Regions from separate parts of the Homo sapiens genome. Here region 1 is linked to region 2. The links come from fine-mapping of genetic effects on plasma protein levels. Region 2 holds a variant in brackets. A gene starts in the other region. All regions are shown on their forward strands.

Region 1 (7,998 bases), not on the chromosome of region 2:
AACCATGACTACAATCTAATTTTAAAATATTTCAATCACTCTAAAAAAGAAACCTCCTGCTTATGTACAGCGACTCTGTCTACCTCTTAAGTGAATTCTCCTACCTTTAATAGCCCTATTTTACAGTTCAGGAAACTGAGGTTCAGAGAGACAAAGTCACTTACCCACAGCAAAGAAGCAAGGCTGGGTATCAAATGCAGGACCCCCCCGGTCCTGATGCTTTTTTTTTTTTTTTTTTTTTCCTCTGAGAGAGACTCTCACTCTGTCACTCAGTCTAGAGTACAGTGGCGCGATCTCAGTTCACTGCAATCTCTGCCTCCTGGGCTGAAGTAATCCTTTCCTCACAAGTAAACCTCAGCCTCTCAAGTAGCTGGGACTACAGGCACACAACACCACGCCTGGCTAATTTTTGTATTTTTAGGTAGAGACGGGGTTTCACTATATTGGCCAGGCTGGTCTTGAACTCCTGACCTCAGGTGATCCGCCTGCCTCGGCCCCCCAAAGTGTTGGGATTACAGGCGTGAGCCACCACACGCAGCCTTTTTGTTATTAGACTCTGTCATTACTGACTTTTTTTTTTTTTTAATAGAAACAGGGTCTTTCTTTCCCAGGCTAAAGTACAGTGGCATGATCACAGTTCACTATAGCCTTAAACTCCTGGGCTCAAGTGATCCTCCTGCCTCAGCCTCCCAAGTAGCAGGGACTACAGGTGTGCACCACCACACCCAGTTAACCATTCATTCATTCATTCATTCATTTATTTTGAGATGGAGTCTCGCTCTGTCACCTAGGCTGGAGTGCAGTGGCACGATCTCAGCTCACTGCAACCTCCACCTCCCAGGTTCAAGAGATTCTCCTGCCTCAGCCTCCCGAGTAGCTGAGACTACAGGCGTGCACCACCATGCCAGACTAATTTTTGTATTTTTAATAGAGACGGGGTTTCACTCTGTTGGTCAGGCTTATCTCGAACTCCTGACTTCGTGGATCCACCCTCCTTGGCCTCCCAAAGTGCTGGGATTAAAGGCGTGAGCCACCGCGCCCTGCCAACCTTTTTTTAATTTTTCTTAGAGATGGGGGTCTCCCTATGTTGCCCAGGCTTGTCTTGAACTCCTGGCCTCAAGTGACCCTCTTGCCTTGGCCTCACAAAGTGCTAGGATTACAGCCTGAGCCATCACACCTGGCCAACAGGTTTTTTTTTTTGTTTTGTTTTGTTTTTTAAAGAATGTCTAGGCCAGGCTCATTTACTTTCACCTGTAATCCCAGCACTTTGGGAGGCCGGGGTGGGCAGATCACTTGAGGTCAGGAATTCGAGACCAGCCTGGGCAACATGCTGAAACCCCGTTTCTACTAAAAATACAAAAATTAGCTGGGTGTGGTGACACGTGCCTGTAATCCCAGCTACTCAGGAGGTTGAGGCAGGAGAATTGCTTGAACCCAGGAGGCAGAGGTTGCAGTGAGCCAAGATCATGCCATCACCCTCCAGCCTGGGCGACAGAAGGAGACTCAGTCTAAAAACTTAATTAATTAATTAATTAAAAATAAAAATACAAAAATTAACCTGGTGTGGTGGTGTGTGCCTGTAATCTAAGCTACTCAGGAGGCTGAGGCAGGAGAATCCCCTGAATCCCAGAGGCAGAGGTTGCAGTGAGCCAAGATCGAGCCACTGTTTGCCCAGTCTAGTGCACTGGGCTGCTGAATTTATTTGACCAGACACCTAGCAATAGACTTTGAAGTTCTTTTCCACTTTTCACTCTAAGATGCTGCTGTCATGAATAAGGAATATTTTGATCCCCTTCACAAACACTCGGGGCCCTCTTACCAGTTTTCACTGAAGATCTTGACATTCCTATCTGCTTAGGTGTCTGGGCGTGTTTGGGGGAGATACTGAAGAGGTAGGGCTCCCAGGCAGGTGCAGTTCGTCTGTTAGGCAGGCAGCAAGGTCCACTTCACCAGACACCCCCACCTCTGTTTTCCTGCAGGGACTCCAGAACGGGTGGAACTGGCACCCCTCCCCTCTTGGCAGCCAGTGGGCAAGAACCTTACCCTACGCTGCCAGGTGGAGGGTGGGGCACCCCGGGCCAACCTCACCGTGGTGCTGCTCCGTGGGGAGAAGGAGCTGAAACGGGAGCCAGCTGTGGGGGAGCCCGCTGAGGTCACGACCACGGTGCTGGTGAGGAGAGATCACCATGGAGCCAATTTCTCGTGCCGCACTGAACTGGACCTGCGGCCCCAAGGGCTGGAGCTGTTTGAGAACACCTCGGCCCCCTACCAGCTCCAGACCTTTGGTGAGGATTGAAGAAGCCAGCAGGGAGAAGGTGGGGGTGGGGTATCCTGCAATGCGGTGCCTGTGGCCACAGGATCTTTTGAGATGGGTGTGGCCCCGGCTAAGGGGTGCATGTGTTCTAGGCGTATGTGACCTAGGCTGCTGAGTGGCCCTGGAAGAGGATCTCGCAGGAGGGGGAATGAAATGCCCCAGAGAAGGGCTTCGGGACGTCCATCCCTGTCTGCTCACACCTTTCTTCTCTCCCTAGTCCTGCCAGCGACTCCCCCACAACTTGTCAGCCCCCGGGTCCTAGAGGTGGACACGCAGGGGACCGTGGTCTGTTCCCTGGACGGGCTGTTCCCAGTCTCGGAGGCCCAGGTCCACCTGGCACTGGGGGACCAGAGGTTGAACCCCACAGTCACCTATGGCAACGACTCCTTCTCGGCCAAGGCCTCAGTCAGTGTGACCGCAGAGGACGAGGGCACCCAGCGGCTGACGTGTGCAGTAATACTGGGGAACCAGAGCCAGGAGACACTGCAGACAGTGACCATCTACAGTAAGAAGGGGCAGGGGCGGAGTGGGGCTTCTTGGGGGTGTGACCTGAACCCGGGGCGGGGCTCACTGTGTGCCTATTCCAGGCTTTCCGGCGCCCAACGTGATTCTGACGAAGCCAGAGGTCTCAGAAGGGACCGAGGTGACAGTGAAGTGTGAGGCCCACCCTAGAGCCAAGGTGACGCTGAATGGGGTTCCAGCCCAGCCACTGGGCCCGAGGGCCCAGCTCCTGCTGAAGGCCACCCCAGAGGACAACGGGCGCAGCTTCTCCTGCTCTGCAACCCTGGAGGTGGCCGGCCAGCTTATACACAAGAACCAGACCCGGGAGCTTCGTGTCCTGTGTGAGTGGGGCTGCTGGTCAATGGCCCCTATCCCCCAAGGCCCAATCTCCCTGAAGGTCCCATAAGGTCTTGCCTCCAAGTCCTGCCCCCACCCACCTCCATGTCATCTCATCGTGTTTTTCCAGATGGCCCCCGACTGGACGAGAGGGATTGTCCGGGAAACTGGACGTGGCCAGAAAATTCCCAGCAGACTCCAATGTGCCAGGCTTGGGGGAACCCATTGCCCGAGCTCAAGTGTCTAAAGGATGGCACTTTCCCACTGCCCATCGGGGAATCAGTGACTGTCACTCGAGATCTTGAGGGCACCTACCTCTGTCGGGCCAGGAGCACTCAAGGGGAGGTCACCCGCAAGGTGACCGTGAATGTGCTCTGTGAGTGAGCCGGCGGGCAGAGCTGGGTGGGGGCAGGGGCCATGGACCTAATGCAATCCTCACCGCCTGTTGTATCCTCCCCACAGCCCCCCGGTATGAGATTGTCATCATCACTGTGGTAGCAGCCGCAGTCATAATGGGCACTGCAGGCCTCAGCACGTACCTCTATAACCGCCAGCGGAAGATCAAGAAATACAGACTACAACAGGCCCAAAAAGGGACCCCCATGAAACCGAACACACAAGCCACGCCTCCCTGAACCTATCCCGGGACAGGGCCTCTTCCTCGGCCTTCCCATATTGGTGGCAGTGGTGCCACACTGAACAGAGTGGAAGACATATGCCATGCAGCTACACCTACCGGCCCTGGGACGCCGGAGGACAGGGCATTGTCCTCAGTCAGATACAACAGCATTTGGGGCCATGGTACCTGCACACCTAAAACACTAGGCCACGCATCTGATCTGTAGTCACATGACTAAGCCAAGAGGAAGGAGCAAGACTCAAGACATGATTGATGGATGTTAAAGTCTAGCCTGATGAGAGGGGAAGTGGTGGGGGAGACATAGCCCCACCATGAGGACATACAACTGGGAAATACTGAAACTTGCTGCCTATTGGGTATGCTGAGGCCCCACAGACTTACAGAAGAAGTGGCCCTCCATAGACATGTGTAGCATCAAAACACAAAGGCCCACACTTCCTGACGGATGCCAGCTTGGGCACTGCTGTCTACTGACCCCAACCCTTGATGATATGTATTTATTCATTTGTTATTTTACCAGCTATTTATTGAGTGTCTTTTATGTAGGCTAAATGAACATAGGTCTCTGGCCTCACGGAGCTCCCAGTCCTAATCACATTCAAGGTCACCAGGTACAGTTGTACAGGTTGTACACTGCAGGAGAGTGCCTGGCAAAAAGATCAAATGGGGCTGGGACTTCTCATTGGCCAACCTGCCTTTCCCCAGAAGGAGTGATTTTTCTATCGGCACAAAAGCACTATATGGACTGGTAATGGTTACAGGTTCAGAGATTACCCAGTGAGGCCTTATTCCTCCCTTCCCCCCAAAACTGACACCTTTGTTAGCCACCTCCCCACCCACATACATTTCTGCCAGTGTTCACAATGACACTCAGCGGTCATGTCTGGACATGAGTGCCCAGGGAATATGCCCAAGCTATGCCTTGTCCTCTTGTCCTGTTTGCATTTCACTGGGAGCTTGCACTATGCAGCTCCAGTTTCCTGCAGTGATCAGGGTCCTGCAAGCAGTGGGGAAGGGGGCCAAGGTATTGGAGGACTCCCTCCCAGCTTTGGAAGCCTCATCCGCGTGTGTGTGTGTGTGTATGTGTAGACAAGCTCTCGCTCTGTCACCCAGGCTGGAGTGCAGTGGTGCAATCATGGTTCACTGCAGTCTTGACCTTTTGGGCTCAAGTGATCCTCCCACCTCAGCCTCCTGAGTAGCTGGGACCATAGGCTCACAACACCACACCTGGCAAATTTGATTTTTTTTTTTTTTCCAGAGACGGGGTCTCGCAACATTGCCCAGACTTCCTTTGTGTTAGTTAATAAAGCTTTCTCAACTGCCTCAGCCTTGTGTGAGTTGAGGGGAGGTGTCACATCCAGCTGGAGTCCTTTCTAAGCAGCCACAGCCTGATCCTCCCACTTCCTCCCCCAAGAAAACATTGTGGGTTGATGGCCATACCCTGAGGTTCTGGTCCAAATCGGACTTTCTATGACCTTCTGGGTCTCTAGTGAAAACTAAAGACTCCTCTCCAGAAAAAAACATTTGGTTTCTAATGAGGCCTGGAATCTTATTCTTGACCTGGGGAGCGGAATCCCTTTTTGCAGTACTCCCGGGCCCTCTGTTGGGGCCTCCCCTTCCTCTCCAGGGTGGAGTCGAGGAGGCGGGGCTGCGGGCCTCCTTATCTCTAGAGCCGGCCCTGGCTCTCTGGCGCGGGGCCCCTTAGTCCGGGCTTTTTGCCATGGGGTCTCTGTTCCCTCTGTCGCTGCTGTTTTTTTTGGCGGCCGCCTACCCGGGAGTTGGGAGCGCGCTGGGACGCCGGACTAAGCGGGCGCAAAGCCCCAAGGGTAGCCCTCTCGCGCCCTCCGGGACCTCAGTGCCCTTCTGGGTGCGCATGAGCCCGGAGTTCGTGGCTGTGCAGCCGGGGAAGTCAGTGCAGCTCAATTGCAGCAACAGCTGTCCCCAGCCGCAGAATTCCAGCCTCCGCACCCCGCTGCGGCAAGGCAAGACGCTCAGAGGGCCGGGTTGGGTGTCTTACCAGCTGCTCGACGTGAGGGCCTGGAGCTCCCTCGCGCACTGCCTCGTGACCTGCGCAGGAAAAACACGCTGGGCCACCTCCAGGATCACCGCCTACAGTGAGGGACAGGGGCTCGGTCCCGGCTGGGGTGAGGGGAGGGGGCTGGAAGAGGTGGGGGAAGGGTAGTTGACAGTCGCTCTATAGGGAGCGCCCGCGGACCTCACTCAGAGGCTCCCCCTTGCCTTAGAACCGCCCCACAGCGTGATTTTGGAGCCTCCGGTCTTAAAGGGCAGGAAATACACTTTGCGCTGCCACGTGACGCAGGTGTTCCCGGTGGGCTACTTGGTGGTGACCCTGAGGCATGGAAGCCGGGTCATCTATTCCGAAAGCCTGGAGCGCTTCACCGGCCTGGATCTGGCCAACGTGACCTTGACCTACGAGTTTGCTGCTGGACCCCGCGACTTCTGGCAGCCCGTGATCTGCCACGCGCGCCTCAATCTCGACGGCCTGGTGGTCCGCAACAGCTCGGCACCCATTACACTGATGCTCGGTGAGGCACCCCTGTAACCCTGGGGACTAGGAGGAAGGGGGCAGAGAGAGTTATGACCCCGAGAGGGCGCACAGACCAAGCGTGAGCTCCACGCGGGTCGACAGACCTCCCTGTGTTCCGTTCCTAATTCTCGCCTTCTGCTCCCAGCTTGGAGCCCCGCGCCCACAGCTTTGGCCTCCGGTTCCATCGCTGCCCTTGTAGGGATCCTCCTCACTGTGGGCGCTGCGTACCTATGCAAGTGCCTAGCTATGAAGTCCCAGGCGTAAAGGGGGATGTTCTATGCCGGCTGAGCGAGAAAAAGAGGAATATGAAACAATCTGGGGAAATGGCCATACATGGTGGCTGACGCCTGTAATCCCAGCACTTTGGGAGGCCGAGGCAGGAGAATCGCTTGAGCCCAGGAGTTCGAGACCAGCCTGGACAACATAGTGAGACCCCGTCTATGCAAAAAATACACAAATTAGCCTGGTGTGGTGGCCCGCACCTGTGGTCCCAGCTACCCGGGAGGCTGAGTTGGGAGGATCCTTTGAGCCCTGAAAGTCGAGGTTGCAGTGAGCCTTGATCGTGCCACTGCACTCCAGCCTGGGGGACAGAGCACGACCCTGTCTCCAAAAATAAAATAAAAATAAAAATAAATATTGGCGGGGGAACCCTCTGGAATCAATAAAGGCTTCCTTAACCAGCCTCTGTCCTGTGACCTAAGGGTCCGCATTACTGCCCTTCTTCGGAGGAACTGGTTTGTTTTTGTTGTTGTTGTTGTTTTTGCGATCACTTTCTCCAAGTTCCTTGTCTCCCTGAGGGCACCTGAGGTTTCCTCACTCAGGGCCCACCTGGGGTCCCGAAGCCCCAGACTCTGTGTATCCCCAGCGGGTGTCACAGAAACCTCTCCTTCTGCTGGCCTTATCGAGTGGGATCAGCGCGGGCCGGGGAGAGCCACGGGCAGGGGCGGGGTGGGGTTCATGGTATGGCTTTCCTGATTGGCGCCGCCGCCACCACGCGGCAGCTCTGATTGGATGTTAAGTTTCCTATCCCAGCCCCACCTTCAGACCCTGTGCTTTCCTGGAGGCCAAACAACTGTGGAGCGAGAACTCATCTCCAAAATAACTTACCACGCTGGAGTGAGACCACGAATGGTGGGGAGGGGAGGGTCCCACGGACATATTGAGGGACGTGGATACGCAGAAGAGGTATCCATGTGGTGGCAGCCGGGAAGGGGTGATCAGATGGTCCACAGGGAATATCACAAACTCGAATTCTGACGATGTTCTGGTAGTCACCCAGCCAGATGAGCGCATGGAGTTGGGGGTGGGGGGTGTCAAAGCTTGGGGCCCGGAAGCGGAGTCAAAAGCATCACCCTCGGTCCCTTGTTCTCGCGTGGATGTCAGGGCCCCCACCCACCGAGCAGAAGGCGGACTCAGGGGCGCTCCAGGGTGGCTCGAGCTCACACACGCTGAGTAGACACGTGCCCGCTGCACCCTGGGTAAATACAGACCCGGAGCCGAGCGGATTCTAATTTAGACGCCCGCGAACGCTGCGCGCACGCACACGTGTCCTCGGCTCGCTGGCACTTTCGTCCCGCCCCCTCCGTCGCGTGCGGGAGCTGACCCGGAGGGGTGCTTAGAGGTATGGCTCCGCGGGGTCAAAAGGAGAAGGATCAGTGA
Region 2 (8,524 bases):
TAGACGTGTAAGGTGCTGATGTAAGAACAAGGTTTGAGGGAGGCACATCTCAAACATGCACATGAACACCCAATCATCGTGCCTAAGAACTACAAAAGAATCAGGTTTTCCTTTTAAATTAAAAAAAAAATGTTTTAGAAGTAGGGCCTCGCTTGTCACCCAGGCTGGAGTGCAAATGGTGTGATCATAACACACTACTGTCTCAAAATCCTGGGCTTAAGCAGTCCTCTGGCCTCAGCCTCCCCAGTAGCTAGGACTACTTGCACATACCACCACACCCAGCTATTTTTTAAACAGTTTTTTTGTAAAGACAGGATCTCACTATGTTGCCCAGGCTGTTCTTGAACTCCTGGTCTCAAGTGATTCTCCTGCCTTGGCCTCCGAGAGTGCTGCATGATAGGTGTGAGTCACTGTGCTCTCTGCCTTTATTATTTTAAAAATGTAATATAAAATGCATTCTGGCCAGGCATGGTGGCTCACACTTGTAATCCCAGCACTTTGGGAGGCCAAAGTGGGCGGATCACTTGAGGTCAGGAGTTCAAGACCAGCCTGGCCAACATGGTGAAACCCTGTCTCTACAAAAAAATACAAAAATCAGCCGGGCATGGTGGTGCATGCCTGTGGTCCCAGCTACTGAGGAGGCTGAGGTGGGGAATCACTTGAATCTGAGAGGCAGAGATTACAGTGAGCCAAGATCACGGCACTGGATTCCAGCCCAGGAGACAGAGTGAGACTCTGTCTCAAAACAAACAAACAAACAAAAAACGCATTTAGTGAGATACATAAAGTGCACAAGTCATATATACATCTCAACAAATTTTTCTTATATATACACCCATGTAAACAGCATCTAGATCAAGATTTAAAACATCACCCCAGAACATTCTCAATCAGCACTTCCATCACACCTGTATAGCCCCCATCCTGACCTCTACCATTGTCCATCAGCTTTCTGTAGACCTTTTTTTTTTTCTTTTGAGATAGGCTCTTGCTCTGTTGCCCAGGCTGGAGTGCAGTGGCATGATCTCGGTTCACTGCAACCTCTGCCTCCTGAATTCAAGCAATTTTCCTGCCTCAGCCTCCTGAGTAACTGGGATTACAGACGCCCACCACTGTGCCCAGCTAATTTTTGTATTTTTAGTAGAGGAAGGGTTTCACCATGTTGGCCAGGCTGGTCTCGAACTCCTGACCTCTCAGGTGATCCACCTGCCTTGGCCTCCCAAAGTGCTGGGATGACAAGCGTGAGCCACCATGCCCGGCCTTCTGTAGACTTTTAATTTAGGTTGTAGAGTCATCTCATACAGGCTTCCAGGTAATCCAAGTTGAAAATTACACACATTTTTAAATTTTGCTACAGTTACTTAAGTGTAAACACAGTAACTTGTATTTTCAGAGTAAAGCAAGTGGCTAAGGGCAGCCAGTTTGACTGTGCCTGGCATGGAGTCAGTGCCAGAGTAGTTATTCATTCGCAGAAGTAAAGGTCTGACTTCAGAAGCCACTGATAGCAAAGGGCTGTGGTCTTTTTCTTTGAAGTTCAGCCAGTATGCAGCTATTTCTAGTTCTTTCCATCTTGTTGCAATTTATTTTACCGTAATAATGATGCTGTTAGAATTCTTTTAGAAAGCTGACACCTAAATTTCAACATTGGTTTAGATTTAAAAGTTTTATTTTTGTGATTGTATTTTTGTCCTGCTTTTGTTCTCAGATCTTTAAAAAATTATTTTGTTCCATTTTGAAGCAGTAGCAAGTCTGACTATGGAGGGGAATTATAGCTGTATATGAGCTTGAATGTACTATTCAAACGTGTTTCCTGCTAAACTTACATTCTGTTGCATTAACATAATTATAGCAGAGCTGACTTCATGTCTTTATAAATGTTTATCATCTATTTGGCTTCAGTTTACATCTTTTTATTATAGTGTCAGATAGTGTCAGGCCATAATTTTAAACAAAAACTGTTAGTTAATTATAATTCAAATGGATAGGAGTCAAAAAGCAGCTATTCTTTCATTAATGACTTTATTATTTTTTCTCTTATTACAAAAGTTCTCTGATTTTGTGGCTTTAAAAATATTAATAAATGTTCTGTGTATTACTCTGTATTTTTTAATTTTAAAAATGTAGGGTAGGCCGGGCACGGTGGCTCACGCCTGTAATCCCAGCACTTTGGGAGGCCGAGGTGGAAGGATCTCGAGGTCAGGAGATCGAGACCATCCTGGCCAACATGATGAAGCCCCGTCTCTACTAAAATACAAAAAATTAGCTGGGTGTGGTGACACGCGCCTGTGGTCCTAGCTACTCAGGAGGCTGAGGCAGGGGAATCGCTTGAACCCGGGAGGTGGAGGTTGCAGTGAGCTGAGATTGTGCCACTGCACTCCAGCCTGGCGATAGAGCAAGACTCCATCTCAAAAAAAAAAAAAAGTAGGATATGCCAATAAGCAAAAACGAAGTTGCCTATAATCTCACCAAACTATAACATTTTGACAGATATTCTACCAGTGTTCTCTTCTGTTTTCTCTTTCTCTAACACACATCTATATGTTTTAAAAGTAATATTTAACTCTTCTCCACTTCCTTTCCTCTTCCTGGAAAAATTCAGTCCAAAAACTATTAGGTGAGGTCAAGCATGAGAGGCATCCTCTATAGAAAGACAAGTTGTGGTGGCCCAGAGCAGGCTGCTGGGCTCAGGCAGGGTGGGAAGGGGCAGCTCAGCATGGGCTCAGATCCTGAGCAGGGTGAGGAGGGGATCCATGCAGCGGAGCGTGGGATGGAAGAAGGCAGCCCTACATGGGATGCTGGAGTCTGAGCAGGGTGAAGAGGCTGTCCAGATGGGGCAGGAGAAGCAGTGTGGCAGCTCTGTCCGCTAAGAGTGCCCAGAACAGCTACACCCCAACACCAGGAGCACACCTATAGCCCCCAGTTATGGAGCATCATGTTGACAAATACCAGACGTTTCAGTAAAAAGATTATTTAACTAGTAACTTTTCTATAAATTGGAGAACATACATAAAAATAATCATAGCAGAGAACAAATAGAGATTGTTCATTCCAAAGTGTCCCTAATAGTGAAGACAGGATTGTGGTGGCTCACAGAGGGCTCTGAAGTTTATTCAGATGGCTCAGCAAGGAAAACGAGCTGAGAACCAGTAACCCAAGAACATTTATTTGTGTTTTACTTTTATATATGAAACCTGTTTTTAATGTATCTATTTTATATACAAAATAATTTAGTACTGTACAGAGATCACTGAAAATAATTGAGTATTTTGATCATTCTGAAACTTAGATTTGTATGAATAAATTAAGACATCATATTACTGTGAAAAAAACTAGGATTCCTATATTCACTTTTTTTTTTCATAGATACAAGGTCTTACTATGTTGCCCAGGCTGGTCTCAAAGTCCCGGGCTTAAGCAATCCTCCTACCTTGGCCTTCCAAAGTGCTGAGATTACTGGCACAAGCTACCAGGCCTGACCTAAACACATTTATTGAGCACCTACTATGTGCGAAGCCCCTAGCCTTGTGCTAGGCATTGAGAATGAAAATGAGAAACAAGACAGACAATGGCTCCTGTCCTCATGAAGCTTATATTCTAGTGTTAGACACACACAACTAAATGGGTATATATATCATAGGTATAATGTTTTGTAACTTTAACTTGATGTATTGTGAACGTTTTCCCATGACATTTGGAATGTTTCAAAGGATACTTCTAAAGAAAGCAAGCCTATCTCAATTTAGAGTGGTATGCTATGAAGAGTTAGTAAAACACCTTATGTTTAGAGCCTGTATCAAGGATTTAAAAAACAAGATTTTACCACTTGAATCTCTATTCGATAATATCTTCAGAGCAAAAAGTTATTGTATTGTTTGAAATATAATTATTTCTCCAAACATTTGATATCAGTACAAAATTACTACAAAAAAATTTATTCCAAAGCCAATTTTAAGAAATATTTGGATTATCCAGGGCCCATTTTCTCCCTCTGCCATTGCCATACATGAGTACATGTTATGTCTGATACATACAAATGGAATATCAGATAGAACCAAGCAAAATTATCTTTTTACCTGTTCCAATCTTAGCAAAAGAAAATTTTGAGAATTTTGTTCCCGATTTTTTTTTTAAGAGACGGAGTTTCACTCTTGTCGCCCAGGCTGAATCGCAGTGGCACGATCTGAGCTCACCACAACCTGTTTCCCGGGTTCAAGCAATTCTCCTGCCTCAGCCTCCCAAGTAGCTAGGATTACAGGCATGTGCCACCATGCCCAGCTAATTTTGTATTTTTAGTAGAGACGGGGTTTCTCTGTGTTGGTCAGGCTGGTCTTGAACTCCTCACCTCAGGTGATCCGCCCACCTTGGCCTCCCAAAGTGCTGGGATTATAGGCATGAACCACCACGCCCAGCCTCGTTCCCAAATTTTAACAATCGAGACTCACCTGAAAGACTTGTTAAAACTCAGATTTCTGGGCCCCATGCCCAGAGTGTCTGCTTTGCTAGGTTTGGGTTAGGGCCAAGAGAATTTTCTTGTCAAATAGGTTGCCAAGTAATGCTGATTCCGCTAGCCTGGGGCCCATGACCACTGCTCTAGAGAGTATCTGGCTGGGCGCAGTGGCTCACACCTGTAATCCCAGCACTTTGGGAGGCCGAGGCGGGCGGATCACAAGGTCAGGAGTTCGAGACCATCCTGGCTAACACGGTGAAACCCCATCTCTACTAAAAATACAAAAAAAATTAGCCGGGCATAGGTGGTGCATGCCTGTAGTCCCAACTACTCGGGAGGCTGAGGCAGGAGAATGGCGTAAAACCTGGGAGGCAGAGGTTGCAGTGAGCC[G/A]AGATCGTGCCACTACACTATAGCCTGGGAGACAGAGCGAGACTCCGTCTCAAAAAAAAAAAAAAAAAAGGAGTATCTGGTTGAAGAGACCAGTCATATGAACTCTTTACTCAAGAACTGAAGGCTTATGAGCCAGGTGTAGTGGCACTTTGGGAGGTCAAGGCAAGGAGGATCTCTTGAGGCCAGGAGTTTGAGACCAGCCTGAGCAACATAGCAAGACTTTGTCTCTACAAAAATTTTTAAAAATTAGCTGGGTGTGGTGGTGCACACCTGTAATCCCAGCTACTCAGGAGGCTGAAGTGGGAGGATCACTTGAGCCTGGGATTTCAAGGCTGCAGTAAGCCATGGTTGTGCCACTGCATTCTAGCTTGAGCAACAGAGTGAGACCCTGTATCTTTAAAAAAAAAAAAAAGACTTTCAGGCCTAACCTTACATTTGAGAAACTGTAGATTATTGTTTCTGGTAATTGGTGTCATGGACCCTGATTTCTTGGTTTTATTTTATTCATACAGGATTAATGCAGTATCGAATGGACAAGTCCGAGGTGATAGTTACAGTGAAGGTTGTCTGGGTCAAACAGGTAAATAGGTGCAAACAGCATCTTATTATACATGCTTAAATCCTTAAGATGAGTATTTCACATGGAAATACCACTTTTCTATTTGTTTTAATATATCTGTGAGTAACAGCTTATTATTTTGAATCTATTGTTTTATGTTTTGGGCTTGAAATTGGGAATTAATATATAACATTCTATTTGCCGTGCTTTATTGAGTGTAGGCAGTGTTTTTATTAAAATGTATTTATGCAAATTAAAGAGGCCCTATCAGAATTCATTTTAGGCAGTCATGACTCCATTTATTTATAGCAAATCTTCATAAACATGTTAATGTGATTTGAAAGTTGCCTGTCCTCCTCTGTTAACATAATTTTAATGCAACCTTCCTAAGTTCTAGTCACAGTAAATTTGAATTTATTTTGCTGCCTAACTTCCCTGAAAGTGAAATATGGTAGCTTGGAGATTCGTATGTCACTGAATATGAATTTTTTACTGTATGTCTGTGTTACTGTTTGAAAGTACTCTTGGAAGATCTGGGAGCGGCCGGGCACAGTGGCTCACGGCTGTAATCCCAGCACTTTGAGAGGCCAAGGCAGGCAGATCACAAGGTCAGGAGATCGAGATCATCCTGGCTAACACAGTGAAACCCCGTCTCTACTAAAAATACAAAAAATCAGCTGGGCGTGGTGGCGGGTGCCTGTAGTCCCAGCTACTCTGGAGGCTGAGGCAGGGGAATGGCATGAACCTGGGCGGGTGGAGCTTGCAGTGAGCCGAGATTGCGCCACTGCACTCCAGCCTAGGAGACAGAGCAAGACTCTGCCTCAAAAAAAAAAAAAAAAAAAATGTGGGATCATTGTCTATATAAAAGCATAAGGAGAATGAGCCTCTAAATATGGTGAAACAGATTTTATGAGATGTTTTATAGGAAGGTTGAGTATAGGTTTTCTCAGTGTAGGCAGTTGGGGAAAGTAAGTATATGCACTTATACAGACTCATAAATAATTTTTAAAAATCTATACAGACCAACCAAGAAGAAAAAGGCCAACAGGTACACTGATGAAGATGTTTAACACATCCTTTACTGTTCTCACGTTAGACTTTAATGGCAGTTGCACTTTTTTTTTTTCTGTTTGGGTTTTATTTTCTTTTTGAAAGTTAATTGTACTGCCCTATAAGAAAGAATTCTGGTAAAATATTATTTCTTTGAAGGTGCTCGCATTTGGCTTTTCGTTGGTTTCATGTTGGCCTTTGGATCTCTGATTGCATCTATGTGGATTCTTTTTGGAGGTTATGTTGCTAAAGGTAAGAGAAAACATAGGTTACAATTTACTTCAGTGGAATACTGGAATTTTGCATTAAAGTTGGTTATTTTAGAATAAAATTTTTTTCCTATAGTTGGGCCAACTACTAGCGATGCATTTATATCCGGGACCCCCCACCCTCCACCGACAGTGTTTGGTTTTCTTTGTCTTATATATTTTTAGTATTCCTTTCTTCAGTCATTTTTCTTCTTATCCAGAGCCTGGAAGGGATGAGACAGCTCTAAACACTGCTTTTCTTTGGCTTCCAAAAATCTCAAAAGCAGAACATATGTTATCTAGCTAGTTAGCAAGCTTTGTTTCTTTTTTAGAGACAAGAGTCTCACTATCACCCAGGCTGGAGTGCAATGGCATGATCATGGCCCACTGCAGCCTCAACCTCCTGGGCTCAAGCCATCCTCACACCTCAGCTTCCCAGGTAGCTAGGGCCACAAGCACACACAACCACACCCAGCTAATTTTTAAATTTTTTATAGAGATGGATCTTGCTATGTTGCTAAGGCTGGCCTTGAACTCCTGGCCTCAAGCCTGGCCTAACAAGTTCTGACTTTCAGAATATCTGTGCAAAGCTCTAACATCCCAGAATTGAGATTTATTCAGTTAAGCCTCCCTGGTAATATGATGTCACCTCCTTTCAGACAGAAAAGTAAACTAACATTTAATATACATCTGCTATATAAGGCCACTTTAAGGCAAGCTCAGGAAAAGGTATACTGTTAGACCCTGGGAGAAATTTCACCTTGAGGGACCCTAGAAAAACAGAAAACCCATTTAATGGTCCAGGTAAAATTGCTATGGGTGTCATAGTAAAAATACAGTATTAATGATTTATAAAAACTGGACCAGGTTATATATATTCTGCTCATATTTTAACACTTATTTGAATAAAATGTAACTTGTAGATTAAAATAATGTTTCCTAAATTTTTATTAAAATCATTTAATCTCATAGATGGGAGTAATAGATATTTCCAAATATTTGTATTTTTAATTTTATTTTAATTATTTTTTTTATTTTTTGAGACAGGGTCTGCTCTGTCACCCAGGCTGGAATGCAGTGGCACAATCTCAGCTTACTGCAACCTCCACCTCCCAGGCTCAAGCAATCCTCCCACTCAGCCTCCTGAGTAGCTGAGATGACGGGCGCATGCCACCACGCCCTGCTAGTTTTGTATTTTTTGTAGAGATGGGGCTTCACCATGTTGCCCAGGCTGGTCTCAAACTCCTGGGCTCAAGTGATCTGCCTGCCTCAGCTTCCCAAAGTGCTGGGATTACAGGTGTGAACCACTAGGCCTAGCCATGTGTAATTTATTATTAAAATCATGTTACCAAAATTGTAGAAAATAAAAAAGGGTGGGTGCAGTGTAATCCCAGCACTTCAGGAGGCCAAGGAGGGAGTACTGCATGAGGCCAGGATTTTGAGACCAGCTTGGACAACATAGGGAGACACCATCTCTACAAATAATAAATATTTAGCCGACTATGGTGACGTGCATGTGTGGTCCCAGCTACTCGGGAGACTGACGTGAGAGGATCACCTGAGCCCGGGAGGCAGAGATTGCAGTGAGCTGTGATTGTGCCACTGTACTCCAGCCTGGGTGACAAAGTGAGACGCTGTCTCAAAAAAAGAGAAAAGAAAAGAAAAAAAGAAAAAGAAGTAATAATAATTTCACCACTCTTCAATATTTTGGTTTATTTCCTTTTTTCTTATGTTTTTAGTTATTATCATAATTTTTATCCCCCGTTTGCATTTCACATGATATTATAAGTTAGTTGTTCTTTTGCTGCTATAAAATCTGTTTTTTATATG

Direction of the effects. Positions count from the first base shown, and alleles are read on the strand shown. Strength reflects both the effect of a copy and how common the allele is.
With allele G in place of A in region 2, the plasma level of the protein whose gene starts at base 5,454 in region 1 is lower (weak association).

Evidence for each region. PIP is the posterior inclusion probability: the model's chance that the variant is causal. Protein levels are from antibody-based Olink assays in UK Biobank. Linkage for the fine-mapping came from a reference panel and not from the study's own genotypes, which makes the PIPs less certain.
Region 1: it holds the start of ICAM4, and the variant in region 2 is fine-mapped to the plasma level of the ICAM4 protein (UK Biobank, PIP above 0.99).

The regions. Positions count from the first base shown.
Region 1 is chr19:10,281,502-10,289,499 of GRCh38, forward strand. ICAM4 (intercellular adhesion molecule 4 (Landsteiner-Wiener blood group)) reads left to right here and starts at 5,454. Exons shown (of 3, transcript NM_001544.5): 1 at 5,454-5,905; 2 at 6,035-6,337; 3 at 6,485-7,019. The coding sequence starts at 5,512. The coding sequence ends at 6,603. It overlaps ICAM1 (intercellular adhesion molecule 1), which reads left to right. Exons shown (of 7, transcript NM_000201.3): 3 at 1,980-2,285; 4 at 2,532-2,819; 5 at 2,902-3,156; 6 at 3,282-3,527; 7 at 3,614-5,114. The coding sequence ends at 3,786. LIMASI (lncRNA inflammatory and mucous response associated, antisense to ICAM1) reads right to left here and starts at 1,949. Exons shown (of 4, transcript XR_007067138.1): 1 at 1,820-1,949. ICAM4-AS1 (ICAM4 antisense RNA 1) reads right to left here and starts at 7,518. Exons shown (of 1, transcript NR_186335.1): 1 at 4,300-7,518. RefSeq lists enhancers at 5,022-5,071, 5,126-6,095, 5,442-5,581 and a silencer at 7,306-7,375.
Region 2 is chr1:25,346,277-25,354,800 of GRCh38, forward strand. It overlaps TMEM50A (transmembrane protein 50A), which reads left to right. Exons shown (of 7, transcript NM_014313.4): 4 at 5,350-5,417; 5 at 6,606-6,698. It overlaps LOC124904823 (small nucleolar RNA U13), which reads right to left and starts at 101; the gene lies at 1-101. The variant G/A (reference allele first, on the strand shown) is at 4,838.